Regions from separate parts of the Homo sapiens genome. Here region 1 is linked to region 2. Evidence: fine-mapped expression QTL. Tissue or cell type: whole blood. Region 2 holds a variant in brackets; the other region holds the start of a gene. All regions are shown on one strand. Distances are between the middles of the regions.

What was found. PIP is the estimated chance that this variant, and not a neighbour inherited with it, causes the effect.
Region 1: CSTF2T starts here. The variant in region 2 is fine-mapped to the expression of CSTF2T in whole blood (INTERVAL, PIP 0.95).

The regions. Positions count from the first base shown.
Region 1 is chr10:51,696,927-51,702,314 of GRCh38, reverse strand. CSTF2T (cleavage stimulation factor subunit 2 tau variant) reads left to right here and starts at 2,720. Exons shown (of 1, transcript NM_015235.3): 1 at 2,720-5,388. The coding sequence starts at 2,766. The coding sequence ends at 4,616. The region is part of intron 3 of PRKG1 (protein kinase cGMP-dependent 1); the gene reads right to left. RefSeq lists a silencer at 1,592-1,886 and enhancers at 1,640-2,328, 2,453-3,032.
Region 2 is chr10:51,916,087-51,921,474 of GRCh38, reverse strand. All of the region lies in intron 5 of PRKG1 (protein kinase cGMP-dependent 1), which reads right to left. Among named protein-coding and RNA genes, the nearest start is that of CSTF2T, 220 kb to the right of the region's middle. The variant T/A (reference allele first, on the strand shown) is at 2,253.

The DNA of each region.
Region 1 (5,388 bases), 220 kb after region 2:
CACTGGTCCTGTATGAACGGGGGCATGACAAACCATTCTTCTAGTTTGGAACAGTGGGACTAAAGAGAACATGGAAAGCCTGTGACTAAAGCACACTCTACAGTCATAACTTCCCCCTTCTTGTTTGTCCCATAGTCCTTCAGCTACTCTCTGTTCACCCAGTCTTCATGTCCAGGGTATCTTCAGTAGCAGATCAGCATGTACTAGAATAGTATATTAATAGTAAATTCATAATGTTTTAAAAACCTTTACCTCAAACCTTTTAATAGAGTGTACCAAATTTAGTTTGGTCTGATGTAAATGAGAAAATCTACTACCAATCCCTAGGACCAATGATTCTTAAAGATCTCCAAACCAGCAGCATCAGCATCACCTGAGAGCTTATTAGAAATGCAAATTCTCCAGACCTGATAAAGCAGAATCTGACTTAACAAGCCATGGCTCAAGGTGGTTCTGCTACATGTGAAGACCACTGGTTTAGACAGTATCAGCAGTAAAGAAACTCTGTCAAGATGTGCAATCTTCTACGAATTTTGCAACATATTATAATACCCCATTACCATCTTCATGATTACTACATTTAATACACACACAATTACACACATATTCAACTTGTAAGTTACCCTTGACAGAATGTGTATAAAAAAGGTATGCCTTCTCTTTGTAAAGTGATGGTATAGAAGGAAGAAAAATAGATTTGTCTTTAGTTTTTTTAAATGATACTATCCTTAACCCCTCCCCTTTCGTCCCCAATAAAAGAATCACACTGGGGAAACATTGCTAGCAGGTGACTATTCCGTTTCTTTGACATAGCAGGAAAATCTTATTAGGTGATGTAAATGAACCTTGTCACTTGCAAATATAAACTGTCGCGCATCTTGGGTGAACAGCTAAGTGCAGAACTGTTTCAAAAACTTGAAGGTAAATGGATGTCTTATTTGCAGCTAAACCATCATACTCATGTCAAATCTATTCATTGGAATAGGATACTGAAGATACATAATACAATTTTTTTGCTGAAATTTAAAAGTTTCATAATCCACTTAAGAGGCATATTTCAGAATAAAATAATTCTCTGTTTTGGAATTAAAGCACAGGCTTGGAGCAGTCCAGTCCACAGAAGTATAATGCAATCTATCCATATAATTTTAAATTTTCTAATAGCCACATTTAAAAAAGTAAAATGAAATGAATAACATTAACTTCAAAATAATTTTTTACTCAAATATATAAAAATATTACATTTCGACTTATAAAAAATATAAAATTGATGGGCTATTTTTACTTTTTTTGTATTTGATCATTAAAATCTTTCATGTATGTTACATGTATGGCACACCTCAACCAGTATGTTAAATTTTGACTGGAAATACTTTCTTTTTATTTGTTTTTATTTTTTGTCTTAGTGTTCTTCAAAATGATTTTTATTTAGAACACAATTTATTATTGCAAAAGTAGATTCTATATCCAAGTTGTTCTAAATACTAAAAAAGTTTTCCAATAGCTTACTGAACATTAGTTTTTATATTTAAATAAAAAATGAGATTTAAAATTCATTTCTTCAATCACACTAGCTTCATTTCATATATTCAATACACGTAAGGCAGTGTAGAATTGGAGCTATGCGAGACCAAGCTGGGTTAGAATCCTGACTTGGCCTCTTTCCAGCTGCTTGTCCTTGGGAATTTACCTAGCCCTCTCCAAGCTTCAGTTCTAGCTTCGAATTGCAGGCGGGGAAACACCACACTGAATATGTTTTAACTCCTACCTGCAAAGCTAACAGCAGAAGACAAACACCCGCTATTTGTTTCTCCCTTCATGGAAGTGGTGGACTCACTGCATGATATAATAAAAATCAGAACCAATCAACGTAGGGATAGTTAAGTAAATTTCTTTATTCCATACTCTGAAGCCATAAAATACTAATAACTAATTAATCACTAATTTATTTAATCACCAATTAATATTGAAATCGGTTGTTATTAAGGAAGAAAACCGTAATATTAGGAATAGCACGACGGCTGCCCGTGTGCTCAGGAAAAACCTAGAAGGGTCTGCCACCCATCCATTAACAGCGGTTATAGGAAGCAACAGAATGGGGGCAGGGCCCAGCCGGCACACGCTTCAGTTTATATTTCTTGTCAGTTAATTTCCAAAAACGTTGTTCTAAAAAGGAGATATAATACTGTTTTAGTTTAAGGGGCAAATCTCAAATGTGCTGAAACGACTACGCTTTTCCCTCAGTCTGGAATGTGATTTTAAATCTAGCTTAACTATACTATAATAAAAGGCCACATGAAAATACTTTGTCAGAACGAAAAACACGCCGCCTTAAATCCGCTTTCGGTTGGCGGTTTCCCGCCAGCGGAACGGAAGCAAAACCGCCTTTGACGTCAAGGGAAGAGTCCCCTCCCAGTTACTACGGTGAAGTCTATGCGGCCATCTTTACTGTGGTCATCTCGTACCAAGCGTGTCGTAGTGGGGCTGTTGGGGCCCCACAGAAAGTCAGCGGAACGTGAAATGGGAAAGGAATCATGCGACTCTGTAATAAGAAGCTGACAGAACCATGAAGGATCAGGGACTGAAAGCATTAGATAAGTTGTTAGTGGGATGCAGGTTCCACAGGCAAGCGGAACGATTCAAGCGAATTAGTAAAGTTTCTGCCCGGATCTTGAAAGCCGCTTCCGTTGCTCAGCGGAAGTGTCGGTCGCAAGAGGACAGACGCCTCGAAGAATCCGCTATCGGCTGTCTGCACAACCGGAATCATGTCGAGTTTGGCGGTGAGAGACCCGGCAATGGATCGATCACTGCGTTCCGTGTTCGTGGGGAACATTCCATATGAGGCAACTGAGGAGCAGTTAAAGGACATTTTCTCGGAGGTTGGTTCTGTTGTCAGTTTCCGGCTGGTATACGATAGAGAGACGGGAAAACCCAAGGGCTATGGCTTCTGCGAATACCAAGACCAGGAGACCGCGCTTAGTGCCATGCGGAACCTCAATGGGCGGGAGTTCAGTGGGAGAGCGCTTCGGGTGGACAATGCTGCCAGTGAAAAGAATAAGGAGGAGTTAAAGAGCCTTGGGCCTGCAGCGCCCATTATTGACTCACCCTATGGGGATCCCATCGATCCAGAAGATGCCCCTGAATCGATTACCAGAGCAGTAGCCAGTCTCCCCCCGGAGCAGATGTTTGAGCTGATGAAGCAGATGAAGCTCTGTGTCCAAAACAGCCACCAGGAAGCTCGAAACATGTTACTTCAAAATCCACAACTGGCTTATGCACTGTTGCAGGCACAAGTAGTGATGAGAATCATGGATCCAGAGATTGCTCTGAAAATTCTGCATCGGAAGATACATGTCACACCACTGATCCCAGGCAAATCTCAGTCTGTGTCTGTCTCTGGCCCTGGCCCTGGCCCTGGCCCTGGGCTCTGCCCAGGACCTAATGTTCTGCTGAACCAGCAGAATCCTCCAGCTCCTCAGCCTCAGCATTTGGCTAGAAGACCTGTGAAGGACATTCCTCCTCTGATGCAGACTCCTATCCAGGGTGGAATTCCAGCTCCAGGGCCAATACCAGCTGCAGTTCCCGGAGCTGGTCCTGGTTCCTTAACTCCTGGAGGAGCAATGCAGCCCCAACTTGGAATGCCAGGGGTTGGCCCAGTGCCTTTAGAGCGGGGACAAGTGCAGATGTCAGATCCTAGAGCTCCTATACCTCGCGGACCCGTGACTCCTGGTGGTCTGCCTCCTCGAGGACTGTTAGGAGATGCTCCAAATGACCCACGTGGAGGGACTTTGCTTTCAGTCACTGGAGAAGTGGAGCCCAGAGGTTATCTGGGTCCACCCCATCAGGGTCCCCCCATGCATCATGCCTCTGGTCATGACACTCGTGGCCCTTCCTCACATGAGATGAGGGGAGGGCCATTAGGAGATCCCAGACTGCTAATTGGAGAGCCCAGAGGCCCCATGATAGATCAAAGGGGTCTACCTATGGATGGTAGAGGTGGTAGAGATTCTCGAGCGATGGAGACTCGTGCCATGGAAACTGAGGTCTTAGAGACACGTGTAATGGAGAGGAGAGGAATGGAGACCTGTGCGATGGAAACCAGAGGGATGGAAGCAAGGGGCATGGATGCAAGAGGATTGGAGATGAGGGGCCCTGTCCCCAGTTCAAGAGGCCCTATGACTGGTGGAATTCAGGGTCCTGGTCCCATTAATATAGGGGCAGGTGGCCCTCCTCAGGGACCCAGACAGGTCCCAGGCATTTCAGGGGTGGGGAATCCTGGAGCTGGTATGCAGGGTACAGGCATACAAGGAACAGGCATGCAGGGAGCAGGCATACAAGGAGGAGGGATGCAGGGGGCAGGCATACAAGGAGTCAGTATACAAGGAGGAGGTATACAAGGAGGAGGTATACAGGGGGCAAGCAAGCAAGGTGGAAGCCAGCCTAGCAGTTTTAGTCCTGGGCAGAGCCAGGTCACTCCACAGGATCAGGAGAAGGCAGCTTTGATCATGCAGGTTCTTCAACTGACTGCAGATCAGATTGCCATGCTGCCCCCTGAGCAAAGGCAGAGTATCCTGATTTTAAAGGAACAAATCCAGAAATCCACTGGAGCGTCTTGAAAGGTTTTAGAAAATATTTGGCTGTAGTCTCAAATTTTATTCTGTAGCATGGAGAATGGGTGCAAAAAGCTGACTTCTGTATCCCCACACTTGGATTAGGGTTTCCCTCCTCCTAGAACCTAATCTTATTTTTTGTTCTTTTTCTTTCTTTCTGTTTTCCTTTTTTTTTTAATTGAGGGTGGGGGGAGGAGGGAGTGCGTCTGTTCACTTTAAGTTACTTTAAAATAACTCTGAACATGATTATATTATGCCAAATAAGATTACAAAGAATAAGCAGCAATATTGAAGCATCTACAGTATGTTAACTACATTTTTTAAATGTCGAGTAAAACTTCGTGAAAACTGCTCATAAAGACTAAAAGTTGACCTGTTAAAACGTTAATGTACTAAGATAGTTTTAAGATTTTTGGTTGTATAACAAAATAAAAGTTTACCCAAAAGTATAAGATACATTTTTTGGTAAACCATTTAAAATACAAAATCCTATTTTGGAGGCAATAGGATAAGCATTGTCTTAGTGTTTTAGAATTATTTTTGAAACAGAGTTAACAGGATAAGGTTACACTTGTATTAGAATTGTTTTTTTCTAAAGTTATGTTACCTGAAAAATCAAGGAGTGCACCTGATTTACTGTTGCTTCATTTATCCCATCCTTCAGAGACCAGCAAGGTTCTGCCAGGCCCCAAGCATCTGAGCATGATGATTTTGCTGTGACAATTCTAAGATCAACCAGGTTACTTAAGTCCGCTCTGATGAAACCCAGTCTCTCAAT
Region 2 (5,388 bases):
TGTCCCCTCACACCACTCCTATTCAGCATTATATTAGAAGTCTCATCTAATTCAGTAAGACAGTAAGAGGAAATAAAAGAGAGACAGATGGGGAAGGAAAAAATAAAATTGTCCTCAATCATAAATTACATGCTTGTTATTGTAGAGAATTCCAAATAATTGACCAAATGACTCCTGGAACTAGTAAGTGATTATAGAAAGGTAGCAAGATACAAGGTTAATATATAAAAGTCAATTGATTTCCTATATACTCGCATGAATAATTGAAATTTGAAATTAAAAACACAATATCATGTATATTAGCAAAACTACTGAGACAGTAAAAGAGAGGGGATAAGTAGGTGGAAGAGGATTTTTAGGGCAGTGAAACTATTCTGTATGATACTGTAATGATGGATATATGACATTTTTCATTTGGCAAAATCCTAATTCTGGGGGGCAAAACCCAAAGAATAGAACTGTACAACACTCTATGGTAAATTATGGACTTTAATTAAAAATAATATTTTAATCTTGGTTCATCAGTTGTAACAAATGTACCACACCAGTGCAACATGTTAAAAATAGAGGAAACTGTGAGTGGGAGAGAGGGAGTATATGAGAATTCTCTACTTTCTGTTCAGTTTTTCTGTAAACCTAAAACTGCTCTAAAAATAATAAGGTCTACTCATGAGAAAAAAAAGTTATGTTTAAAAGTAAAATTAGAAACAGTTCTATGAGGTAGGTATTATTACTATCCTTCTTTTCCAGAAGAAAACAAATGGAGCTTAGGGGAGTTAAGTAACTTGCTCAAGATCACATAGCTAAGGAATGATTGAACCACAATTAAAGGGTGCTGCCAATATTCAAACCCAGGCATTATAATTATATGGCGATATAAAGATAGATATATAAACACACACATATATGCATACATATATCCATATATGTAGGATCACTATCTCTATTCTGTAGACACGAAACTAAACAGAAAGAGAGAAGACATGAACACTGTAAGATTGTTAATTAGGAGATTCCCATAGGCAAGCACTAAACTGTAACTGGGAAATCGGCAAGATGGCTATCAGAGGCCTTCACATCCTTGTGGAGTGAACAGTAACTGACAACAGTTCAGCTCTCTCCCCGGGGCCTTATACTGGAAAATCAACAACTTCTACAAAAGTTTCTTTCTTCTTCAAAATATCCTTCTAAAGGTTTGGCCTTTGTTATATCTCCCTGGGATGGATAGGGAAAGGAGAAGGATGATAGAAGAAAAATGAGTCTTATTCCTTTCCCATGATCTTTCTGTCCTTAGCTTCCCACACCTTCTTTGTTTTCCACCTTGATTGTGTATCCTTGACAATCTCCTACCAGCAACCTCTACTCTACATGCCCTCATGATGAGTTCTTGTATTTCAGAAGGCATGCTCCCTGTCCTTGATGCATTTTTAATCTAGTTGTGGTAATAAAGCATCCAAATGCAAAACAGAACAATTTTGTTTCATTCATTGGGTCACTCGGGTAGCATGTATGCATTTATTGTAAGCCTACTCAGACTTCTGATTCAACAAATATTTATTGTTTATTTAATAAGTACCAGGCATAATTCTTCCACAAATCCTTGCTGTGCTGGAAACTTGGGATATATGTTAAGACATACCCTGTGCTTAGGTACTTACAGAAAACTGGGAGACAGACAAGTTCCAGGCAATATAGGATCAAGCATGCAGCTTTGTAGTACAAACTGTACAAAAGGATTAAGAAAACAACAAACAGGATAGAGTAGAATTAGTCAGGGTAAGCCACTTTAAAAAAAAAAGGTGGGGGGCTGTTCAATTTGACCTTAAAGAACATTTTTGGAAGAGGAAAGAGGAGTCAGGGAGAGACAACACTCTCATGCCTAGCAATTATTAACATCTGTAATGTAAACTGATTTGCACAAAGTCAAAGCAAAAAAAAAAATCTGCAGAATGGTATTGCACAGCAGGTCTATTTACAAGACAAATCATGTTACGTTTATTAAAATAATAATTTTTAGGTGTAAGTAATAAAAAAGAATGGTAGCTCTTCCCAGAGAGTGAAGAGGAGCTCACTTACAGAATCTCATAATAATTAAGGGAACACGTAGAACATGAGGCAAACAGAACATCCTTTCTCACAACAACTGCCATCTCCCTAAAGCCTTGGTTGGTCACGGTTTGTTCCTCATTAACATTGACTGATTTGAGGAATGCTCATTACTAAAATACTGCCTGCCCTGGTTCAGAGCCTTA[T/A]CTACCAGGAAACAGACTTATACCCCCTGGCCTAAGGAACTGCATGATTCCTTTTCCGCAGGGAAGCAGTAGGTTGCCCTTGCTATGGATTCAGAGAAGTACTCTGTAGTCAAAGGTCTTGGGGAGGCCTGGAACTGAATACCCACATTATCTCCTGCACCACGTTGTTTGATAACTCTCCCTAGCACAAACAAGCTTTGTATTCTGTGGCTAAAACTGAAAGCCCAACTGATTTTCTTATCTTTAGCCTGTTACTTGTAAGCACGAGTGGGCTTCTATTCTTCATTGATTTATGCCTTAGATGCCAACTGTGTACAAGCCCGTGAGCTAGGTTTTCTGGCAGCTACAAATATGTCTCGGATTAAGAAAAAAAAATAGTTGAAAATCTTGGGTCAGGGCAATTTATCTAATTCAGACCAGTGTGCATCACTTGTCCCTGTAAAAGGAATTTGGAGCTCATCGTGATCTGCTCAGATGCTATCAAATGGCATTTTGTAAGCAGATCTCACACACATGCTGAAGGCAGGCTACTAATTTACAGTTTCACACAAATCCACTATTTGTTTACAAACCCCATAAATGACAGCAAATCACACAAATACCAAGCAGGTTTGTGTATTCTTACAGAGCAACCATTTCGAACACTTTCCATGAATGTTTTCTAGAAAGCTGATTTATTGCAGATTGGTTTCCTATTTGCAGAGCACATACATTTTAATGAATTACAAGCAGCATGGAGCAAAGCATGCATATTCTGGCAATAAAATGTCTAGAAACACTTTGTTTCGGGTCTCGTGGAAAGCATAAAATGGATCCCTGTCACAACAAATTTAAAATGCTGACTGAGAAAAAGCTAATTACTCTCACAAAAAAAAAAATAAAAAAAAAATAAGTCAAGTCGATATTTTCAGAAGGAAGTACAACCTATTTAAAAGAAAGAGTCAGGGGTGGGAGAAGTTTTTCTTTTATTAATTCCGCAAACTTTCAAGTTACAATGCAGTATAGTACTGAAAGGTACTGATTCCAGGGTCGGATTGCATAGGGTAAAATACTTCCCCATTTAATTCGCTGTGTTATCTGAGGCTCAGTCTTCCCACCTGCACATTGGGACTAGGAATAATAAGAATAGTACTATTGTTATTACTCAGATGGGATTAGACAAATGGCCTTAGCCTGGCACAGAGTTTGCATCAATAAGTGGAAGGTATTACTGTTGTTTTAATCAAATGCATATAGGAACCCAGTTAAAGGAAATATGAATATAGTTTTGCTTTTAAGGAATTTATATCTCAAGTTATGTTCACATAACTAGACACCAATTTAAAGCAATGAACAAGCATTTGTTTTTTTCTATGTAATGATGGCTAAATTGACTTACAAAATATGGGAGAGGGACCTCTCTATAGGGAGAGAAATAAAAATCACTGAGAATTAGAACTAGGAAGATCTTTGTTGAGAATTAAATACAGAATCTCAGATAGATGCTAAAAAGTTAATATTGTTCAACCACTAAATCAACGTGTAAGTATCTACAACATCCCTACCAAATCTCTTTTACATGCCTACTTTTAAAACATGTATTATTTTTGTTAATACTTAAAATTTCATACTATACTTTGCCATCAGGATATTTGCATGGCTGTCAAGTCAAATGAGACCCCCAAGTACACATTCTTCTTATAAGCCCAAAAGTTTCCTTCATTGAAATTATCACAACTGAAATCAAAGTCCATATGTACTTTTTAATAACAGCTTTAGTGAGACATTATAAAATTTACCCATGTAAAGAATAAATTCAATGGTTTTCGGTATATTCAGAGTTGTACAACCATTGTCACCATCAAATTTTAGAATGTTTTTATCACCCTAAAAAGAAATCCACACTCTTTTTTTTTTTTTTTTTTGAGATGGAGTCTTGCTCTGTTGCTCAGGCTGGAGTGCAGTGGCACGATCTTGGCCCGCTGCAACCTCTGTCTCCCAGGTTCAAGCAATTCTCTTCCCTCAGCCTCCTGAGTAGGTAGGACTACAGGCATGTGCCACCACACCTGGCTAATTTTTTGTATTTTTAGTAGGGATGGGGTTTCACCATGTTGGGCAGGCTGCTCTCAAACTTCTGACTTCAGGTGATCCGCCTGCCTCAGCCTCCCGAAGTGCTGGGATTATAAGCATGAGCCACCGTGCCCAGCCCACACTCTTAATAGTCACTCACCTTCTCCACTGTCCTCCTTCACTAATTTACTTTCTCTATATATAGATTTGTCTGTTTTATATACTTCATGTAAATGAAATCACACAATATGTGTCATTTTACTTTTATTTACTTAACAAAATGCTTTCAAAGTCATCCATGTTGTAGCATATATCAAGTCCTTCACCCATTTTAAAGTCAAGTAATATTTTATTGTATGAATATACCACATTTTATTTACCCATCCATCAGCTGATGACCACTTGGGTTGTTTGCACTTTTTGAATATCATGAATAATAATGCTATCAACCTTTGTGTGTAAGTTTTTGTATAGACATGTGTTTCCAATTCTCTTGGGTATGCACCTAGGAGCAGAATTGCTAGGTCATACAGTTACAAGAAAGGGGTCCTGATCCAGACCCCAAGAGAGGGTTCTTGGATATCACACAAGAAAGAATTCAAGGCGAGTCCACAGAGTAAAGTGAAAGCAAGTGTATTAAGAAAGTAAAGGACTAAAGAATGGCTACTCCATAGACAGAGCAGCCCCCAGGGCTGCTGGTTGCCCATACTGATGGTTATTTATTTCCTGATTATATGCTAAGCAAGGGGTGGCTTATTCATACCTTCCGTTTTTACACCATTTAGGGTAACTTCCTGATGTTGCCGTGGCATTTGTAAACTGTCATGGTGCTGGTGGGAGTATAGCAGTGAGGACGACCAGAGGTCACTCTTGTCACCATATTGTATTAGTTTTGGTGGGTTTTAGCTGGGTTCTTTACTGAAACCTGTTTTATTAGCAAGGTCTTTATGATCTGCATCTTGTGCTGACTTCCTATCTTATTCTGTGAATTAGAGTGCCTTAACTGTCTGGGAATGCAGCCCAGTAGGTTTTAGGCTCATTTTACCCAGCTTCTACTCAAGATGGGGTTGCTCTGGCTCACACACCT